3 linked regions of the Homo sapiens genome follow. The protein of the gene in region 3 interacts with the protein of the main gene of each other region in a pairwise test. Each region holds a gene or a part of one and is shown on either strand. Other genes may lie near its edges.

Region 1 (7,020 bases), on a different chromosome or scaffold from region 3:
AAGCAGCTAAAGGAATATTTACACCACCCACCCCCTTTTTAACTCACACAAAGCATATGTAGACAGAAAAACTGAACATACTTTAAGAGCACACGCTTTTTTTTCGGCTAAGAATCACACTATCATCGTAGCTTTGCAACTGATGTCTGTGGTAACATACTGGTTATAAAAGAAATGAAACTCACAAAAGGAAATTAGAACTTAGCTTCCTAAAGCATATAGAATTGTTAACCTTGACAGCAGAAGCTACTTTATAAAAAGGGAAAATAGCAATGCTCTTAATGGAAAAACTAGGTGCCAGATGTGTTTAACAGCCTGCACAAAATAAATACATTCTATGTGAAAATAATGACCCCATCCCACCTTGATTTTAGCTTGCAAATGGTAAGCAAATACATATACTATTTCAGTGTCTTCTGAAAGTAGCATTTTGCTCTCTAAAGCAAAACATTTTCATTAAGTACTACTGTGTGGAGAGGGAGGGATTGAGAAGTCCGAGGGGTCTGATAAAATATTAGGTTTTCCCACAAGCAAAAATCATGCTTCCATACCATGCATAGAAGGTGTCTTACTAAGATACTATCATTCTTAGGGAAGAGATACACTGTTGATCTAAGCTATTTGCAACAGGTTTCCTTTGAGTTCTAGGTTTATTCTTTTTTTTTAAGCTAAATATCAACCTATAGATAAAGAAATGATCTTGACAGTCTGACCTATGACTTAGAAAACTTTGGTGCTGGGCTCATGGGGCCAGCGCCTGCACCTTGGGAGAGTGTATCAACCTGAAAGACACTACACAGAGTGCTGAGCACTGAGAGGGAAGCAGGCAGGGTCCACTGGCAGAGAGGCTGTGTGAGAGAAGCAGATTATGCTCCTTGGTCTATTTTGTTTCCTTTGGGATCTGTGTTTTGGGAAGGTCCCTTTCCTGAGGTTGGAGGTTACGATCAGGAAGGCTAGCTGGGGCGTGGGCCTCCAAGTTGCCCAATTACTTCTTCTCTTCCTCTCTTGGAGGACAAAAGTCAATGCTGAGATTTGGCCTGCCCTCCCGTCTGTGTTTAAAGGCAGTGAGGTGCAAAGGTGACAGATTTCTCTCTTTGGAGCAAAGGAGAATTGTCTTTCTGTCACTTCAGTGAGTGACCTTGCCTCCTGTCAACCTTGATTCTAATCTTGCATTACCACTAGTTGAAGAAAGGAAAGCTAGACAGAAGGGCATCTATTATCACTCCTCCTTTTCACTCTACAAATAGGAGTCAGCAATTCTGCTCATTCTCTCCTCCCACTTGACAGTAGTTGCTTGATGTCTGTGACATTCCCAATATTTGTATTTCAAGTAAGGAGCAAGAGAATGACAGTCTTTTCTAAGGTCTGGTGGTAGGCAATCTGTTCCAGGGAATTCTGGATGTTACTAAGAGTAAAACAAGGAAGGGGATGGGAGACAGTTCTCTTTTTTATAGTTCATGCACCAGACATTCTGACCATGTTAAAGCCCAGTTAGCTTACTCTACCCTTGTACTTCTTTGAGTGGGCAGATAGTAAATGAATTCTATTCAATTAATTGCAAATTCTGAGAATCTTAATTGATGATGGAAGCTGACAAGTCAAGGTTTGTTGGTACCTGTAGAGAAAAAAGATGTTGCCTCACCTGGGCCTCTTGGTTCCTAAACTGAACCATTCCAAAATCAGTTATGGTCACATTCATCCATGCAATTCTTAAGGATTTCTGAGGCCACAAGGGCACAAAAGGGGAAAGTTATTAAAAGACAGAAACAAGTAGAATCTTTATTAAATTCTGTGGAAGGTATAAATGAGTTATTATTAATTGCACTTGGAGCCTCTATAGCTTGATGATTAAAATTTTCAAAAGTTTAGAGTTAATTAGGCTCCAAATCCTGAGTCAGACTAACCACAAAATAGGAATCTCAGTAACTATTGGTATTCAAGTATTAGTAATTAGCAGTTCAAAATTTAACAGCTAAGTATGTTATGCCTGAGAGTATTTTGGAGAATTTTAGATTTGATGAGAGGAAACTGACTTCACTATTTTCTACCGTACCTTGTAACAAAAGTGGTGCAAAGTTTTCATTCATTTATCCTTGAAGTCCATGCCAAACCTCATCAAATGCCCAATAACAAGGCTTCCTCTCTGGCATACAGCTATGTGGTTACAGAAGATTCCTTCTGTCCTTTGCAAGTCTTACATCTTACATCTAATATGATGCTGTGTAGCATACTTAGGGAATCATATTCTATGTGAAGTTACTGAGTCACATGCACACTGAAAGGTCGAAGGAACATGTTTGAGTGACAAAGCAGTCTTTTTCTCTATCAGAAGATTCTTAAAAAAAAACAACAACAACAAATGAAAATATAAAACCCCATGAGATATTTATATAAAGTTACTCAGATTTGGGCCGACATGGCTTATCTGAAGAGTGCATGCCGGGTAAATTCAGGGTGGCTTTTTTCTCAGGGTCTGGAAGTGTGAGAGTTTCTGGGGCAGACTTTTTCCGGGGCCGATCTTTGGGAACGGACAGAAATTCGGGTGCGTCTGTGGAGAGAGGGGTGGATGGAGCACTAGAAGGCGCACTGCGGACGGAAGAAGGCAGCAGGGGGATGCTGGAGATAGAAATTGCAGGTGGGAAAATGCCGATTTTCTTGTTGGTGGCTTCCTGAGTGGCTCGTTCAAATTCTCGGACTTCATCCATTGTCATGTCTTCAAGGAGAAAAACAGAAAGAAAAACGAGCAGTTATTTATAAGAGAGGCAAATAGATTCATCACTACCCTTGTTTTTACAGGAACTATGGGAACCCTATCATAAAGGGGCCTCTCCCGATTATACACCCAAAGTATCATTGAAATACCAAACCCCCAATTTTTTCTATTGGAAGCTACACCCTGAAAACAATATCCCTTTATGATTATCCATTTAAGATTTTCCAAAGCACTCTTCACAGTGAGTATTTTAAGTATTCTCAATAAGGACTTAACAGTAGAATACAGAACTAGACGGGGGAAATATGTGCCTGTGTGTGTGTATGTGTGTGCACCCGTGTGCATCTGTGTTGTTGTGGGTCTGGTGTGGGGTATTTGGAGCTATAATTAACTGGTCATATTTTTCATAAAGAGAAGGTAATTAAAACAATCAATGGCCCTGAAATGACACATATTATTGTCATTATTGTCAACTTTAGATCATGAAAGTATACCTTTATAGGGTAAACAGGTAAATCATCAGGATTTTTCAACATACTATCTTCTTTTTTTTTTTTCTTTCTGAGACGGGATCTCACTGCATCACCCAGGCTGGAGTGCAGTGGTGCGATCATGACTCACGGCAGTCTCGACCTCCTGGGCTCAAGTGATCCTCCTGCATTAGGGCCCCGTGAGGCTGAAACCACAGGTGCATGCCATAATGCCTGGTTTAATTTTTTTGTATTTTCTGTAGAGACAGGGTCTCGCTATGTTGCCTAGGCTGGTCTTGAATTCCTCACCTCAAGTGATCCGCCTGCCTAAGCCTCCCAAAGTGTTGGGATTACAGGCGTGAGCCACTGTACTCAGGCCAACATGCTATCTTCTTAATCAATACATATACTTTTTTATTCTGAGGGGCCACAAAGATGCTGTTGTTTCTGGTTTCCTGACTGTGTGTCGATCCTAAGAAGGTTCAGAGATTGTGTTTTAATAAATTCAGTTTCAAAAACACGTAAATCAACAATTTCACCACACCCTGCTAATCATTCCAAAGCCAAGAAAATAAAACCATTTCTTGAGGAAACTTAAAAAGAATAGAGAATGAAAGGAGAGGATCATTTAATAGTGAGGATTCTATTTAAAAGAAAAAAAAGCATGACTTGGAATTCAACAAATAAGACAGTGATACCACTGTTAATAATCATTGTTGGATAATGTAGGTTTTCCAAATACCTGAAATGTTCTTATTTAAGTGAGAAAGTAAAAACAGTATTTAAAAAATGTAAATCTTTCCCTAATGTGTTTAATGTATTATACATACTTCCTACATTTGAGACATAATATGTTGAAGATATATCACTGTGCAAAAATACAGTTCCTTAGTTCCTTCTCAGGGTCTATTTGCTCTTTATGGCTTGATATCTCTTCTCTCATGCTCAGAAACTCTATTATTACTGTTATTATTTATTTATTTATTTATTTATTTATTTGAGATAGAGTCTTGCTCTGTTGCACAGGCCGGAGTGCAATGGCGTGATCTTGGCTCACTGCAACCTCCACCTCCTGGGTTCAAGTAATTCTCCTGCCTCAGCCTCCTGAATAGCTGGGACTACAGGCACGTGCCACCATGCCCTGCTAATTTTTGTACTTTTAGCAGAGACAGGGTTTCACCATGTTGGCCAGGCTGGTCTCGAACTCCTAACCTCGTGATCCACCTGCCTCAGACTCCCAAAGTGCTGGGATTACAGACCTGAGCCACCGTGCCCAGCCTTATTACTGTTATTATTAATTATTGTTACCCTGGCTATCCCTGGTATCCTTTGCCATTTTTACTTGCTGGGAACAGGGAAAAGAGGAACCTGGGCTTATTAAAGACTGAGTCAAGGCCCAAGGCTTATCCTGGAGCAAAATGCAAAATTTAGTGCCCGCGGATTTTCTGTATCTGTTTTGGCCCCCCAGAGACCCATTTTTCATTGTTTCTTGTCCACTGCCATGTACTTAGCAGTTGAAACTTCATTAGATAATATTGGAGGGAATAACCAGCAGGAAACAATATAGCCACTTTGGAAATACTGAGTATGTAATGAATATTCATAACACAGTATTAATCCTTAGGACTTTTCTTTTTCTTTTTTTTTTTTTTTGAGACAGAGTTTTGCTCTTGTCTCCCAGGCTGGAGTGCAACGGCGAGATCTCGGCTCACTGCAACTTCCGCCTCCGGGGTTCAAGCGATTCTCCTGCCTCAGCCTCCCGAGTAGCTGGGATTACAGGCGTCTGCCACCACGCCCGGCTAATTTTTGTGTTATTAGTAGAGATGGGGTTTCACCATGTTGGCCAGGCTGGTCTCGAACTCCTGACCTCAGGTCATCCGTCCACCTCAGCCTCCCAAAGTGCTGGGATTATAGGCATGAGCCACCGTGCCCAGCTTAATCTTTAGGTTTTATAACATCTGAGCAAACCAGAAGTATTTTTCACAAAATGAAATCCTTAAGAGGATTTCCTGGGAACAATTATTAAAATTTTCTGAAAGGGAAAGTTTTTACAAAGGATATAAGTCATTATGACTATGTGGATAAGATATAAAATTCAGCATATATCAAGAAAAATTGTACCTATAAACTTACCAATTTTTAAAAACATGGAAGACTATTAAATGAGCTAAGAAGTGAGATTAAGGTTATATAAAAAGAGGCATTTATTTCACAATAAAGTTGAGACTGAGAAAAATTTTAGTGTATCAGGGTATGTTATGTTTTTGCTATGATAAATGGATATTATCTTTGAAAAAGCAGACTTTCTTAATCAAGTGGCTGAATACATTGTTCTACTCCACATAGCCAGCAGGGGGCAGAAATAATCTAAAGCACAGAATTTTGATTTTCCACTCCCAGAGGCTCTTAGAAGTTCCCGTCCTTGAAGGCTTTGAACCTGCTCAATTGAAAAGACTTATTTCCTCACTGCTGTGTTCATGGATGTTAATTTTGCCTAATTTCAATCTAATTTGTCCCTGCTTGGGTTGATGATCTAAAATTCATTTAGCACCCATGCAGTTTTTATTTGTGACAAAGAGCCACCTCCTGATTTTCACTGCTTTTCATTATGATACAGGAGAAAGACTAAGGAAAAATAAATGTGCTCCAATTTCACGGAATTCCAAAGGATAATGGAAATGTCATAAGCATTCAAAATAACCACTTTGTGTAACTTCTCCGGTGGCAGGCATCTTTCACCCTGAAGTCACGGGAACAACGCTGAGGGGCAGCCAGAGATTATGTGGGCTTTTCCATGGGAAGAACCACTCTACGTTATCACCTTCTACATAGTAAGTGGACTTTATTTTTTATTTTACTTTATTTATTTATTTTACTTTATTTATTTATTTATTTATTTGAGATGGAGTTGCACTCTTGTTGCCCAGGCTGGAGTGCAGTGGCACAATCTCTGCTCACTGCAACCTCCATCTCCTGGGTTCAAACGATTCTCCTGCCTCAGCCTCCCGAGTAGCTGGGATTACAGGCATGCGCCACCACGCCCAGCTAATTTTGTATTTTTAGTAGAGACGGGGTTTCTTCATGTTGGTCAGGCTGGTCTTGAACTCCCGACCTCAGGTGATACGCCCGCCTTGGCATCCCAAAGTGCTGGGATTACAGGCGTGAGCCACCGCACCCAGCCATGGACTTTAATTATAAAGTAATAATCACAGTAAAACTGAAAGAAAGCCAAGCCAAGGGGCTTATAAGCTGTGAGAAAATCACTGAGCTTAGCATCTTTTAGCCATCTGGTGTCTCCTCTTTACCTGTGGCTTCTTCCTTTGTTTGCCTGGTCATATTTATAGTGAATGGCTTTCAGAGTGGCTGAGGGGGAACTGGGGCCCAACATTTCTAAAAGAAAAGGTAATTGAAAGTGATAGAAATTCAAGGAGAGTTTCCTTAAAGAGCACTTCTAGGGGGAAGTCCTACTGGAATTGGTCTGTGCATAGAGAGGAAACGCCTCTTGCTCCAACAGTTTCCTGCAAATCAGATCACTGCATGCAAAATGGGAGAAGAGTTAGGGCCCTTGCAACCTCAAGGGCAATCACATGCAACCAGTTGCAGCACATGAGACTTGCAGGGCACATTCCAAAGACATGCTCCAAAAATTTAACTAAAAATTTCCAAAGTGCAATCAGAAGGTCTTCACAATTCTAAAGGATCCATTTATGACAACAGCCACATCTAAATTTCCTAGAACTACAGCATTGATTTTTTTTTTTTTGAGACAGAATTTTGCTCTTGTTGCCCAGGCTGGAGTGCAATGGCGCGATCTTGGCTCACTGCAACCTCTGCCTC
Region 2 (7,020 bases), on a different chromosome or scaffold from region 3:
GTCCTCCCCAGCCTTCCCACAGGCAGCCCTCCTGTTTGCCCTGGAGATAGCTCCAGAGGCTGAAGTCTGGAGGGGAACAAAAAACAAACTGAGAAGAGGAAGTTTGCCTCCTGGCAGTGGGGACCTGGAGGAACAGGTATGTCTTGGAGGGAAGGGGGAAGTCAAGGAGACACACAAGGGGTGTGTTGTGTGTGTGTGTGTGTGTGTCTGTGTGTGTGTACCTGGTTCCACCCCAGACCCAGATTTTCAGATCTGCCAAGCCAGGTTCAGCTGCTTTCAGCTCTCTGAATGCCAGGCGGCCCCAGTTGCCTTCCCTGGCCCCAAACTCCAAGCCCACTCCTATGATGCCCCTGGGTGCAGCCATGAGTTGTTTCAAAAGGCCTTCTCAGGTGCCATAGACCCAGCTCTGACCCCAAGCCCTGGGGCGGGTGAGGGGAGTGTGCCTCACCCCCAGACAGGCTTCCCTGGCAGGACACGGCCCCTGGCCCTGGACCCCCAGCACGGAAGGAAGAGTCCCTTCCCCCAGTAGGCCCAGCACTGCCATCAGAACAGTGCGCCAAGTCCTCCCTAAGGGCAAAGGGGAGTTGGGCACAGCCTGGGATGGCCAACTTGCAACTCAGGTGGCATCTGTGGGGCCCAGCATCCGGGGCCCAGGTCACACAAAACTCCTATGCTTATGGGCTCCCTACTACCACCTGACACCACGTGCCAGCCCTGCAAACAGGAGCCCCAACCCCAGCACTGCCTGCCCACCGGTCTCTAGGTGGTGTGGGGTGGGGTGGAAATGTACTCACTGTAGCCCATGCCTTGCAGGAAGTATTTGAAGGCTTCAGTCAGCTTCCCTGGCTGCGGAGGGCAGGACAAGCACATGCTTTCATTGGCTGCCTAGGATTAGCAGGTAGGGTAGAGGCTTCCCCCTCCCCATAGATGTAAGGGCAGGAGGGCCAAAAGTCTCACCTGTGTGACCTGGGGCAGCCCTCCAGAGTCTGCCATCTGCAAGGGAGAGAGTGGGGTGACCTGAGCAGGGCCCTCACTCCAGGACAAGCTCCCACCCTGGCTGGGACCCCAGGAAAACACCTCCCTGAGGTTGGGCCCATGCTAGGGAAGCTGGCCCAGGGCTGGGGAAGAAAGCCTCACCTTCAGGAAGGTCGTAGTGGTCGGGTCCAGTTTGGAGTTGCACTCCACCTGAGGACAAGGAGCCAGCTTCAGCAACAGCCCCTGCCCCTCCCCACCCCCATTGCCAAGGCAGGTTTGATGCCCCAAGCTCGGGGAGGAGAGGGGGTGCAGGGAGGCAGAGGGAGGCCCAGCAGCTGTGACAGGCTGCTCCTCCCAGGCTTTCTTCTCCCAGGGCTCCCCATGTTCTTGGAGACCAGTTTAACAGCCCCACTGAAGGGCCTGGGACCCTTGGAGCCCACTCACAACTGCTAGGAGTGGGAGTCAGGCGAGGGCTGGGCTGCCGTGGTGGGACTGGCCTGGGAAAGCCCCAGTGCCCTCGGCAGTGAGGTGAGGGGTGCCGAGGGTCTGAGAGAGACTGGGTGGAGGGGGCTGGCACAGCCCACCACCCTGCTCTTCCAGGACCTCCCAGTGGGCATGGGAAAGCCTGGTATTTTCAGGGCGCACGGGGCTGCTCTGGGCACTTCTGGACCCTGCAGCTTCCCAGCAGCTCTGTGCTGATGGGGCATCCCAGCCTCAGGCCACCTGCTCCCAGAGTTCCAGCAGGAGAGGTGACACACGGCCCCCAAACATAACCGCTGCAGGTGACGGGAAAAGGGAGACCGTGCCGCTGTATGCGTTAATGATTTATAATGGCTTGATCACATTTTAGAAAAAAGATCGTACACCCTGGGCCTGAGGTGGGTAGGGACCAAGTTGGGGCTGTGCTGCTGGGGAGGGAAGAGGGGACCTTCTGATGGCCCAGCCCTGGCCCCAGCTCTCCCCATTTCCAGGCCTCCCCAGCCAGAAGGATGGGGGCTATGCCAGATGTGAGGCTTGGCAAGACTGTGGGAAAGTGGACAAGAAGCCCACCGTCCACTGCTGGCCCTGGAGGCTCCCCTGGGCTGGATCAAGAATTGTCCCTGCTGGGCAGGGGCCAGTGAGCCCCTCACCCCTACCTCCCACCCCCAGTGAGCCCACAGCCCCTCACTTACCACCCCGTCCTCAGCGGGTGCATTATCCCCAACCACCAGCATCACGGGGCAGCTGCAGATACAGAGGAAAAGGGCTGTCTGGCTGGGTCATGGGGGCAAAGGCCAGGGCAGGCCAGAGGGCCAGGGGCCACTCACCGGAGCGTCTTGGCATTGGGCACCGTTCCAGGCCGGTTAATGTCCAGGTCTCTGCGGCTGTGGGGCAGGGGGAGGGGCAGAGGCAGAGGTGGGCACCCCAGGACAGGATGAGGGGCATCCCAAGCCCAACACTGCCAATTGGTAAAGCAGGGAGGCGTGGACCTGCTCTGCATAAATGAACTGGAGGCTCCCTGTCACGGCTTTTTGGACTCCCTAGCACATACCAGGTGGGCTCTCAAATTTTGCTCTCTATCCCCCTCAGAGCCATGCGCACCGCCACCTGTGCTGTGGGAGTTTCTGCTACTGGCCTGTCTCCTGGACCATATGGGATGGCAGGCCCTGGGTCTCTCTATTCTCTATTGTTTTGTTTTCTTAGCACCATGCACACAGCAGGTGCTTAATATTTGTAGAAGAATGAGAAGGAGGGCACGTGAGTGAGGGGGCCTGGCCACCTTCCTGCAGGGCAGGGCAGCCCCTAAAGGGGGCTCCAAGGAGCACAGCTTGAAAACCACAGGCTCATCCGACCTCTTCCTCATTTTGCAGACGTCAACATCAAGGCTGGGTTACTGGAGTCAGGGATGTCACTAACACCCCCAACATTCCCAAGCGGGAAGCCCCCAGGGGAGGAGGAAAAGTGGAAGAGCCCAAGGCCCGGAGTCTGAAACCCTGTTCCCCTCTGCCCCTCACAGGGTGTGACCTTGTGCAGGAAATGACCTCCTTTGAGGCCCAATATCGTGCCCATCTACAAACCAGGGCAAGGGTGTTGTCTGCCTGCCTCCCTCAGGGGGCAGTGTGCAAGGGCCCCCACTGGGGTGTGCTGGGTCCCAGGGCTGCTGATCCCACCCGCACCTGTTGTACATGTTCCAGAAGAGCTGCAGGTTGGCCTGGTTCACCACGTTCCCAATCTGCTGCCGGTAGCTCTGCACCAACTCTGTGTTGTTCACCAGCTCCTCCTAGGCCCAGGGAGATGGATGGAGGCATGCAGAGGGGCAGACAGAGGGACGCAGGCTTAGAGGGGGCTGGCAGATGTCACTGCCAGAGTGGCCCTTGCCCCACTCAGCAGGCAGGGGAGACAGGGTGGGGGCAGGTAGGAGGTGTGGGGCCTTGGGAGGGGATGTCTGTCTTTCAGATGGCTTAGCATCTGGAGTGAGCCAGGTCAGATGCCAAAGACACCCGCCTGCCTCCTACCGAGCCAGCTGGGAGGGGCAAATCCCAGATCACCCCAGATCTGCAGAAGTTCCCCCCCTTACCTGGCTGAAGAGGTGGGAGAGCACCGTGTCGGGTAAAGTGCTAGTTAGGCCGGAGAGCTGCAGGGAGCAGGGCGCCAGCGTGAGTGCCGCCCCTCACCCCACCCTAGGTATACCCACCCCACCCCCGGTCACCACACACACCTTGGTGGCAGCCCAGTCTATCCAGCCTTTGCCATTGGGGTCGATGTTCACCAGCACCAGCCCCTCCACCAGGTCGGGGAAGATGAGCTGCAGTAAGAGGGGAAACAGGGCCGGGCGGGGCCAGGATGGGTGCAGATGGCAGAAACACTCTGTAAAGTCTTCAAGGTGCTGCTGATCAGCCACCCGGCTACAGCCGGGTCTGTGCATGCACACCCATGTCCAGATGCCCCTGCCTGTCCTCCTCTCACTGAACCCTTCACAGTTCTTGGATTTATTTAGAATCTCTATCATTGTTTCCACCCCTACACACACACAGACACACACACACACACACACACACGCTCTTTCAACAGAATCAGCTCTTAATATATTTTTGAAGTGCAAAATTGAGTATTAAACATCTTAAAATCTTAAGCATGTTGTTTTTTTGCTTTTATAGAGAATGAAGCCCTGGCCAGGCGCCGTGGCTCACGCCTGTAATCCCAGCACTTTGGGAGGCCAAGGCGGGCTGATCACCTGAGGTCAGGCATACGAGACCAGCCTAGCCAACATGGTGAAGCCCTGTCTCTAATAAAAATACAAAAATTAGCCAGGCGTGGTGGCATGCACCTGTAGTCTCAGCTACTTAGGAGGCTGAGGCAGGAGAATTGCTTGAACCAGGGAGGTGGAGGTTGCAGTGGGCCGAGATCATGCCACTGCACTCCAGCCTGGACGACAGAGCAAGACTCCATCTCAAAAAAAAAAAAAAAAAAAAAAAAAAGAAAATGAAGCCCTCATGATATAAATTAAGAAAAAAACAACCTTTTCAAAGTCTGTTTTGCCGTAGGCATTGCAAAAGAGGTATTTTCTTTTCAACTGTTAGACTGTGCTTAAAGAAAAACAGCATAACCACATCAAGCTTGTCTAGGGTGGCAGGGAATGGCCTCCAGTTAACAAAATGATTAAGTGCTGACATTGCAACTGGAGTTGAAAATTCTTGGTCATTTCTTTTGAAGTAGTAAATGTCTTCGATCGTGAAAAATTAGTCTTTTGGGTTTTTGTTTTTTTTTTTTTTGCTTGTTTTTAGAGATGAAAAGCTTGTGAATTCCTACCCAACAATGATTTTTTTTATTTTTTTATTTTTTTGAGACAGAGTCTCGCTCTGTTGCCCAGGCTGGAGTGCAGTGGCGCGATCTCAGCTCACTGCAAGCTCCGCCTCCCGGGTTCACGCCTTTCTCCTGCCTCAGCCTCCCGAGTAGCTGGGACTACAGGCGCCCGCCACTACGCCCGGCTAATTTTTTGTATTTTTAGTAGAGACTGGGTTTCACCGTGTTAGCCAGGATGGTCTTGATCTCCTGACCTCGTGATCTGCCCACCTTGGCCTCCCAAAGTGCTGGGATTACAGGTGTGAGCCACCGACAATGATGTTTTTGAAATGTGCCTTCTTTAAACCTCCCAACCATAATAAAATTTTTTGCTAAAAAAATTATTCATGTTGAAATACCATGGCAATTAGTGAAGGACGATCCTTATTTAGTGGCTAGAGCAGTTAGTTGTATAGTTTGTTGCTACTAGAAATTCTGGCTTTGGATAATAGTTTAAGCAAGTTATAGTTTCTAGTCTCTTGAGAAAACTATATGGAGAAAGGAACCTCTTTTTTAAAAAAGTTAATTTCCCTGGAGGAAAAAAGAAAAAAGAGGTTTTCTACATAAAGAGGAGGTGGGAGGAGGAGAAGCGAGAGCAGGGACACTTCCTCAAGGCTGAAGGGTTCCCCCCAGTCCCCACCACTGGGACATCCCTGGCTTGCCCTGGTGTTTGGGGTAATGGGGGCATGGGGAGACTCACTGCAAACTTGGCCAGCACATAGGCTCCGGCGCCCACTCCGATGCCAATCACATACTTGAACCTGGTGCAGAGCAGGCTGGTCACTCTAGGGCTAGGGGTGCCATTTCCCATACATGTCATCCAGAGCAGGCCCTGCCCATAGCCTGAAGCCCTCAGCTGGAGCCAGGTGGCTCTGCAGTTGGGGTAGGCACCCCTGGGCCCTAGCGCAGGGGCTGTGCGGGGACTCACCCGAAATGCTGCACCACGCTGGGGAGCATGGCAGCCAGCTGCTCCATGGAGGGGAACTGGTACCTGCAGGCAGAGCAGGAGGTCAGGGCCCAGGTGTGGCCTCAGGTGCAGAGCTGGAGACAGGCAGAGGGGGCTCAGGGTACCTACCCCTGAGGAAACTGCGACGCCCCCACCTGTTGTCCAGGGGCATCCACGTGACACACCACAAAGTGCTTGGTGATCTCCTGCATGTCCTCGAAGTTGAAGAAGGTGTTGAAGCATAGTTTGTCTGCAAAGACACACTTCCACTATGGCTGAGCAGAGGGGCCGGGGGACTGGAAGGAAGGCCGGGCCCCCAGAGGGCAGGCAAGGCAGAAGTGTAAGCCTCGGGTCCGTCGGGGAAATGGAGGCCCGGAGGGCGAAGGCAACAGAGGTGAGTGTGAGTGGGGCTGACAGGGCCCTGTGGGGAGGGTGGGGGGCCTCACCGCTCTGGCTGATGGGAGGCAGAGGAGGGCTGACTGAGGCTGGGCTGCACTTACGGTTGAGGCCCACATCATGGTAGGTGAGGATGGCTGGGCGGTTCCCCTTGGGGGAGCCCCGGATCACTACATGCAGAAGGCCGTAGGGTGTCTCGATGTCATGTTCCTGAAGGGGAGAGACCGTGCTGGACACTCTGGGCAGCCTCCGCTCTTGGCTCCTCTGGGGAATGAGGTGACGCAGCCTGGTACCTGTTAGGCCTGTGGTAGAGCCCCTACTTGGGGCATCCTGTTCTCATCACCCCAAGAAGCCCCCAGAGAGGACTGAATGGATGGAACACCCCTTCTCAGGGCTGTTCAGTACAGAGACAATGTGAACTGATCTGCATGGGGAAGGTCTGGTCCTCTCTGCAAACCAGCCACTGGTTTGTGCTGTCACTGTCCTCCGCCCTTGAGGGTCCAGGGAGGCTGTTTTTCTCCATCTTGCAGCAGCCCCTCCTGGACAGCTCTGCCTCCCCAGCCCAAGTCCCTCTCACACTCAGAACTCTCAGGCACTTCCTGCTGCTGCAGGGGAACGGCCTCAGTGGTCCTGCCTGGAATCCTCAGAAAACACCCCGTGCCAGCCAAGCCTAGCCCCGACCCCGGCACTGCCCCTGGCTCCCACTCTAAGGCTCTTGCGCATGTGGTTCCTTCCACCTTGAACGCCCTTCTGTGTGAGCCCAGCATCCTCAAGGGCTCCCTTCAGGCAGGCCCGGGTCAGACCCCCCTCCCCATCCCCTCTAGAGGCCTTCTGCAGAGCCTGCTCTGGGATCCTCTTGAGTTCACACCTTTGGTTTTGCT
Region 3 (7,730 bases):
GGGGTGCCTCTCTCAGAACAGAGATGGGAACCAGGTAAGACTGAGCAGCAGTTCCAGCTCTAACTTCCTCACCAGCCCTGTGCCACTGGCACGCTATCTTCATCTTCCTAGACCCGTTTCTCCTCTTGCACATGAGCAAGTCCCACAGCCCAGCCACCCACCGCTGAAATGCCATAAGGCCAGGAAGGGGAGGGGGCATCGTTTTCCACCCCAGAACGTGGCTTCTCTGATGCTCAGATGTGCAGCCTTGACGCCCCGCCTCCCAGCTGCACCTCACCAGCAGGGTCTCTTGCACCCAACTCCCTCCTCCACCCACAGCCTGCAGCCTGGCTTCACCAGGAACTCCAGGAGCCTTCAAGGCAGGTCCAAGGAGGTGGCTGCTGGGCAGGGAGCAAGCCCAGGCCATCACTGAGGGGGGCCTTGGAGGCAGCAATTAGCACCCAGCTCATTAAACTTGCAGCAGCTCCTCTGCACCTGATCCCTCCACCTGGGTCTGGAATTCTGCTGTTTTCCATTTTCCCAGGTAACCTTATGCAGACAGCAGGCAAAGAAGCCAGATAAAGTGAGCCGAACTGCAATGGGACTGCTTCATGGGCCCCCAGGGTCTCCTTCTAAAACAAAGGACTCAAGCGTTGCACTGCTCCTCAGCACAGCCTTAGACATCTGCCTTCAGACAGCAAGGTGTTCCAGAACCACAGGTACACAGGGGCCTGCCTGTCCTAGCAGAGTGCCCAAAGGGTGACACGGCTCCCTGCCTCTCTGCTGTGCCTGGCCTCACCTGACAGCTCGGCTGTGCTTCCTGCTGCAGTCAGCATTTGGCCTCCAGCTCCAACCCTACCCCAGCTGTCCAACCCACAGCCAGCCTTGGGGGAGGACCAGGTGTCAAGCCAGACCAGCAGGCTCCAGCCAGGAATCCTTTAGCAATAAAGGGCTGGAGGATGTCCACTTGGGGGCCTCAATGCTGATATCTTCCACGTGAGGGGGCTGTCACCATGCAATCCTGTCCCCTCCCAAGGTATCACCTCCAGATGCTCTTAGGACCCAGGGTAGACCCTCTCCAGGTACTCTCTCTGATCCCCTCACCCTGGAGGAGGAAAACCTTACCCAAGGACCAGCCCGGCACACAACCCTTGTCTGAACTCCTGCCGCATCTCTAAAACACCCTGCATTTTTGCATTCTACCCTGTAATACAGCATTTTGATGTTCACATAACCATGCCCCCAAAAATCTGCAGATGCAACTGACAACTCAGGGCAATGCCACAAGTTTCTCCTGAAGCTTCATCTGTAGACCCAACAGAGCCCCAGGAACTCCCAGGAAAGGCAGAGGTACCTCACTTTGAGAGGCACAGAACTGAGTAAGACTCCACAGCAAATCTGGGAGTCGGCAGGGCCACTGACCAAGAAGGAAGGAGGTGTGGCCTACAGGCCATAGTCAGGACCTTTCCTTTCTCACCACTGACCATGTCACCCCACTGCACTGCCCACCCTAATCTGCAGGGAAAACAGCTAACCAGACATGACAGGACTGGATCCAATGCCTAACTTCAAACCCACCAGTCTCTCCTACAAAGTCAAAAGCGTACTTGCCCTGAAGAGCAGTGACACAAACTCGGGGCCTTTTTGTGATTTGGGGGTAGGGCCTGCCCTACCGTATCCGTTGCCTCTGGATAAGGGCATGCCTAGCGAGGGCAGCACACTCCTAGCCCAGCACCCTCCTGCCTCAACCTCCCTCCACCCTCTACCCACCTGGAAAGGCTGTGGAACCCAAGGTGACCCTGAAAAGGTGGTCCTTCTGGCAGGATTGCTGATGGGGCCTGCCCTGCCCAGGCCCAGAGCTAGCCCTCTCTGCCAGGCAGGCACTGTTTAAAACCTGCAGACATCCTCGACAGACATTCTCTAAGACCTTGCCCACTCCAGTAATCCACAAGATTGAGGGCAGACAGGAAAGGAAAGGGTATCACTCAGACAGACTTGTCTTTCCCTGGAAGGCCAGCTGTACGGCTTCCATTCACTCCTGGAGCTGACCTGCCTCCCTCTTTGTCCTTTTCTGGCTGTGCTTAAGAGCCTAGCTTCCCTGGCAGCCTAAGGTCAGGGTCTGTGACTGGGATGCGTGCGGAGAAGGGGAGGAAGGCCGGTGACAGGCGGCTAAGGCAGCAGCAACGGGGGAGATATGAGAGCGGACAGAGGACCCAGGGAGAGGCCGGGCCCTCAGCTCACTGCCCCGCGGCCCCAGGGGCCACCTGTGCCCTGACACCACCTGACCCTCAGCAAACTTCCGCCCAGTGGCTTCCTGCCAGAAATCTAGCCAGCCGTGCACCCGCCTCCCTTACAAACAATCCTTGCCCAAAGGTTAGCAATGTGGCTGCCGTCACCTACGCCCAAGTCAACAGTTGACGCTTTAGTACGGGCCAGGTGGGCATGCGCCCCGTGAGCATCACCGAGAAAGTCTCACAAAAGCCCCTGGGGAGCGGGGGGAGGGCTCAGTCACGTGCCCCAGGCCGGTGCCCCACCCCCGCCCCCGCCGCCCCCCCGCCCTGGGGTTTCTGGTCCCTCCGGGAATGTTCCCAGAAGCGCCAGCCCAGCCCAGCCCGGGGTACCAAGGCGCCCAGGCCCGAGCGGGTAACCATGGCAACCCCAGGACGCCGGCTCCCGGCGGCCCCGCCATTCCTCCGCCCCGGGAGGCGCCCGGCAGACCCCCGACCCCCAGCGGGTCCTTTCCCCTGGGGCCGCCGGGGCGGGGCGGGGCAGGGCAGGGCGAGGAGCGCATGCGCGGCGGGGCCGGCCCCTCTCCCCGACTGGATACTCACAGACTGCCCCCAGCACCCCAGACAGGCGACACAGCCAGCGGTACCACCACGTCATGCCCTCTTCCTGCGCGGGCGGCGCAGAGCTGGCGGACGCCCCGGGCGCCCCACCTGAGCTGCTCATGGTGCCACCGTCAGGCGCAGCTCACAGCCCTCACAAAGGGCTCGGTAGCCGGCCGCGTCCGAGCCGGCGCGCTGCCTTGTGGGAGAGGGAGCATATTAGCATAGGGGGCGGGGCTTTCAGGCTGCGGCGAGGCGCGCCCGAAGGGAGGCGGGTGCTCATTAACATAGTGAGCGGGACCCTCATGCCGCGACTAGGGGCGTTTGAGGGGAGGTAGGTGCTCATTATTGTAGGGGGCGGGACCCGCAGGCTGCGGCGAGGAGCTGGGGGTGGGGAGCTCGTTAGCATACGGGGCGGGGCTCGCAGGCATCGGAGAGGTGTGCCCGAGGGGGGCGGGCGTCATTAGCGTAGGGGGCGGGGGCTCGCAGTTTGCGGCGACTTGCTCCCAAAGGAGGCGGGCGCTTATTAGCATAGGGGGCGGGGCCTGGAGGCGCGCAGACACCTTAGCGGTCAGAGCCTCACACCAGGACACACGGGTGGGGCTTCGCAGGGAGCTGGCTAATGCGCCATCCTCGGAGTGGAATCCTGATTGGATTTTCTTCCTGGATAGGAAGAAGATAACTAGGGACGTCCAGCGGCTTGCTCAGATCAAGATAGAGCCAACCGCGGCCAGCGAATCCCTGCCTTGCCATGGGATGGGTTTTCAAGCCAGGTCTGGACAGCTTATAAGAAAAAAACGCCGGTCAGCCTGCATGTTTTATTTATTGGTACCCGAGGAAATGGGGGCTGCTTTTCCAGAGTCCCCACCTCCAACCCCCTAGCCTTTTGGACATTGGAGAAGACTCTAAAGTAGATACCTAAGATTGGAAAAAGTTCGAATTGGAAAGCACTGAGACCAGGGGTCAACCCTCCAGGGCTGGCCAGACACGGAACAAATGTTCAATGACCCTCAGGTTCCTTCCTTTCCCTTCCAGGACTGAGGGTCCTGCATCTCCGGTACCCATGATTGGAGGGTCCAGTACTGGCCCCGCAGGCTGGCCTGAGCCTTCAGGAAGCCCTCGCTGAACTCCATCTCAGCCTGGCTGCTCTCTGACTCCCAGTAGAGCACCTGCTGCCCATGGAACGCTGTGGTCCTCAAGCTGTGGGTGTCCCGGATCTGAGAGAAAAGGGGCAGCCCAGAAGGACCGGCCACAAGTAATAATTAGCACTCACGGAAGCCTTCGTGTGCAAGGGCTCACAGATTCCGGATCACATTTAATGCTTACAAAGCCCTACTAGGAATACGCCATTACTCTACCCAGAAAACCGAGGTCCAGGGACGTTACATCACTTCCCCAAGGACACACAGTCAGGGTGCCAGAGCGGGGCCAGGCTGCCTCCTCTGGGGAAGCTGATACCCTGCAGAACACAGTTCTCCCAGGACACTTGAAACCTCGGGGAGGGTGCAGGGTGCTATTCTGTCCAAGTTATATCAGACTGTAAAATTATGCTTCAGTCTTGGGTTAGCTGTCAGTCTACATCAGAAAGGTCTTTACCATTCTTTACCATTTCGCTTTTTTTTTTTTTTTTTTTTTGAGACAGAGTCTCACTCTGTTGCCCAGGCTGGAGTGCAGTGGTGCGATCTGGGCTTAGTGCAACCTCCACCTCCCGGGTTCAAGTGATTCTTGTGCCTCAGCCTCCCAAGTAGCTGGGATTACAGGCACACGCCACCATGCCTGGCTACTTTTTCTATTTTTAGTAGAGACAAGGTTTCATCATGTTGGCCAGGCTGGTCTCGAACTCCTGACCTTGAGTGATCTGCCCTCCTGGGCCTCCCAAAGTGCTGGGATTACAGTTGTGAGCCACTATTTCACTCTTGTAGGTAGCTCAAAAAACATTTCTTGGTGAATATGTGGAGGAAGCTATCTTCTCCCATTCTTTCACTAATGATTTTGAGGGTTTTAGTCTGAAATAAACTGAAGGGGGTCCCCTAGCCCTGCACGCCCTAGGGAAAGCTGTCCAGAATCACAGCACAAGTCCCCATGCTGGGCCTCACCAAGATGTAGCTGGCATTGGCTCCCTCGGTCCCAGCGCCCATGTTGGTGGCCAGGGCATGGATGGCAATCCGTGCGTGCGGAGCCACATTAATGAAGAGCCGGCAGCCCCCTGCATTACTCGTGGCTGGACTCAGCGAGGGGCTCACGATTTCACCCCAGGGCCCAAAGAGCTGCATGTCACATTCTGCAGGTGGGACATAGGGACATAGGAACCCAGACAGACCGGTGGTGCCAGAGGCCAGGACAACTCACAGCCAGGGAGCCGTGCAGGGCAGCATGGCACTGTGGTCAATATTGGGGTTCCCAGGCAAATCCTGCTGAACCCCACCTCTACCACTTCCTGGCCCAGTGACTTTAGGCAAAGGCTAAATGTTCTGGGCTCTGGTTCCCTCCTCTGTAACTGAAGGAAACAATGGCATGCACTGAGCAGAGTGGTCTTTAGGACTCAATGATGTCACACGTGCAAGAGTGTTTAACACTGAAACTGGCAACAAAGATAGGCTCCACCCATGGCGGCCACTGCTGTTCCTCAGAGCTCACTGGAGCCCCCACCTGCCTGTACCTCCTGCACCTCTTTCAAGGCAGATGCCTGTGTGGGCGGGGCTGGGCCGGGAAGCGAGAAGCAATGTGAACGGTGACAGTGGGCTTGTGGCCTTTTGGCAGGGCCCAGCAGCGCCTGTGCACTGGGACACATACACGGCTCTCTGCCCGGGCAGGTCTGGGGCAAGGAGGCGGCGCACTAGGTCTCTGCAGAGGCTAAGCCCCTGTTGCCACTAAGCCCCAGACACCTGGGGGAGCCGAGGAACCTCTGGAACCAGCTAGGGAAGCCAACTTCGGCCAGCTCGGGCTGTTGGGAGAGGGCAAGCCCCCCAGGACAACCGAGAGGGCTATCAGAGGATATCGAGGGGGCCACGGGCAAGGCTGGAGTCCCTGAGGTGGCATCCTCTGCCTGAGGTGTGCTTGTGGGTGCACATGCATGTACAAGCATGTCTGCTTACACCAGTGCACTGAAACAGGGCTGAGGGACAGTGGCTTCCACAAAACCCTAAAAGCCCTTGAAAGGCTGGAGGGGTGGGGGCGGGGCAGGTGGGTGTGGGGCAGAGGCCTGAGGGACTGACTGAGGATGTGGACCATGTCCCACATCCGTCCATCTTGCTGCACGGTCCCAAAAAGGAGGGATATAGCATTCATCCTGTGACCCCTCCCTGGCACGTGCAGACTGACACTGGCCAACCCCAGTTCCTTCCATCTCAGTCAGTTCCCTCCGTATCTTCCCACTGCCCCACTGGGACTGGCCCCATCCCCAGCAGCACCCACCCAGCCTCCCTGCCAGGACTGGAGCACCCAAGGGAGGTGGAGAAGGCCTGGCCATACCTCTGTAGAAGGTTTCAGGAGCAAGCTGGCTCCCATACCGCAGCAGCACCCCACCTCCTGGCCGCCCGCAGCGCTGCCTCACCACCAGCGTGTTGGTCTTGGAGCTGAAAGTCATGTCCAACAGCTTCCTGCACATCTTCCTCCAGGTGAGCCGGCCCCAAAGCAGCAACATGTCCCCTAGGAAGCGGCAGGGCAGTGAGGGTCCAGCACTCCCACGCCTGGTCAGCAGAGGAGTGGCTCCAGGGTAGACTGAGCCGAGTTCAAGTCCCACCTCTCCCACTGCTGGCTATGTGACTCTAAGTAACTGGGCACATCACTTAATCTCTCCTAGCCTCAGTTTCCTCATCTGTAAAATGCAGATCATCACTCCCCAGTCATGAGATGGGATGCAAACTACAGGTGGGAATGCACATGGGCTCCTGCCAGGAATGGGGCATGCAGCGTCGTGCTGGCTCCTGGCAGGGCCCATAACTGGCAGCATCGCTTGCATGGCCCTAGACATACCCGCACTGCAGTTGAGAGAACTCTCAAGGACGCGGAGGGTCACCACCTCCCCGAGGGGCCGCCCAATGGCCACTGCACAGTCTGCCTGCCCTGGGCCTCGCATGTCAATGGTTCCTGTTGGCTCAAGGTGCTGCCTGCCACAGGCACCTGAAAAGGGAGCAGGAGACAGGTAAGCAGTGCTTCCCCGATTCCCAGCAGGGCAGGCTCCGGGGCTTCCAAGCTGAGGAAGGAGACCAGGAGGTAGGGGTGGACCCTGTCCTCCAAGGCCCAGCTGGAAGCCTTCTCAGGACAGGGAGGGGGGCTGCATAGGTCAGAGCATCACCCTCAGGGCACAGGGCTGCTACCAGATGATCCAGCAAGAGGGGGCACATGCAGAGCAGCCCAGAGGCTAGGGGGCTCACAAGCTGGGTTCCTACCTTCAAGTTACTTCCCCTTGATAGTAGTAAAAGGGAGGTTTTGCTTTGCCAGGGAGAAAGAGGGCCAGCCCTGATCCCGGCCTCCCAGGCACACAACCCAGGGACCAAGTGCTTGTGCCAGTCCTTCCCAGAGGAAGATGCCTTTGCCCACCCCTCCTGCAGCAGCTGCCTGACAGGAAGGAGGACAGGACATAACTGGACTGCACTGAGTTTTCCTGGGGCCCGGGCAGGAGCCGCCGAGGCTGGGGAGCCGGGGAGAAGAGCAGGCCCCGGGCCTGGGACCACTCCAGGGAGGCACCAGCAGGGGTGGCTGTGGTCCGTCCTGGAGCAGCGGCTTCTTCGTGGGGCACCAGGCTGGGCGTACCCTGTCCCACACAGGGCCCAGCCCAGCAGCCACGCACAGTCACCGGCTTGGGCAAGTGCTGGCAGAAATCAGCTGGCACAGGCGCCTGGGCCTGGGGTCCGAGGCAGGTGTCACGCCGGCGCTGGATGCCATCCCCACAGGAAACAGAGCACTGCCAAGAGAGGGGAG

What was found. The genes of interacting proteins can lie anywhere in the genome.
Region 1: the proteins of CACFD1 (region 3) and PITPNC1 interact in binary tests that used the Homo sapiens proteins (3 or more experiments, as listed by UniProt).
Region 2: the proteins of CACFD1 (region 3) and NDRG4 interact in binary tests that used the Homo sapiens proteins (3 or more experiments, as listed by UniProt).

Annotation. Positions count from the first base shown.
Region 1 is NC_000017.11:67,688,265-67,695,284, reverse strand, and holds part of PITPNC1 (cytoplasmic phosphatidylinositol transfer protein 1), read right to left. Parts: intron 6,015-7,020; exon of another isoform or gene 5,912-6,014; intron 2,714-5,911; coding exon 2,397-2,713; 3' UTR 1-2,396.
Region 2 is NC_000016.10:58,503,127-58,510,146, reverse strand, and holds part of NDRG4 (protein NDRG4), read right to left. Parts: intron 6,442-7,020; exon of another isoform or gene 6,404-6,441; coding exon of another isoform or gene 6,350-6,403; coding exon 6,244-6,349; intron 5,994-6,243; coding exon 5,873-5,993; intron 5,789-5,872; coding exon 5,726-5,788; intron 5,559-5,725; coding exon 5,498-5,558; intron 3,761-5,497; coding exon 3,674-3,760; intron 3,590-3,673; coding exon 3,533-3,589; intron 3,236-3,532; coding exon 3,132-3,235; intron 2,340-3,131; coding exon 2,283-2,339; intron 2,200-2,282; coding exon 2,148-2,199; intron 1,186-2,147; coding exon 1,138-1,185; intron 994-1,137; coding exon 958-993; intron 847-957; coding exon 795-846; intron 1-794. UniProt on the Homo sapiens protein: Contributes to the maintenance of intracerebral BDNF levels within the normal range, which is necessary for the preservation of spatial learning and the resistance to neuronal cell death caused by ischemic stress.
Region 3 is NC_000009.12:133,455,268-133,462,997, reverse strand, and holds the start of CACFD1 (calcium channel flower homolog), read right to left. Parts: upstream 3,021-7,730; 5' UTR 2,932-3,020; coding exon 2,811-2,931; intron 2,558-2,810; exon of another isoform or gene 816-2,557; coding exon of another isoform or gene 779-815; intron 1-778. Other genes in the region: ADAMTS13 (A disintegrin and metalloproteinase with thrombospondin motifs 13 isoform 1 preproprotein), read right to left, coding at 3,818-4,024, 4,904-5,088, 6,279-6,455, 6,783-6,929, 7,395-7,713. UniProt on the Homo sapiens protein: Transmembrane protein which mediates synaptic endocytosis and fitness-based cell culling.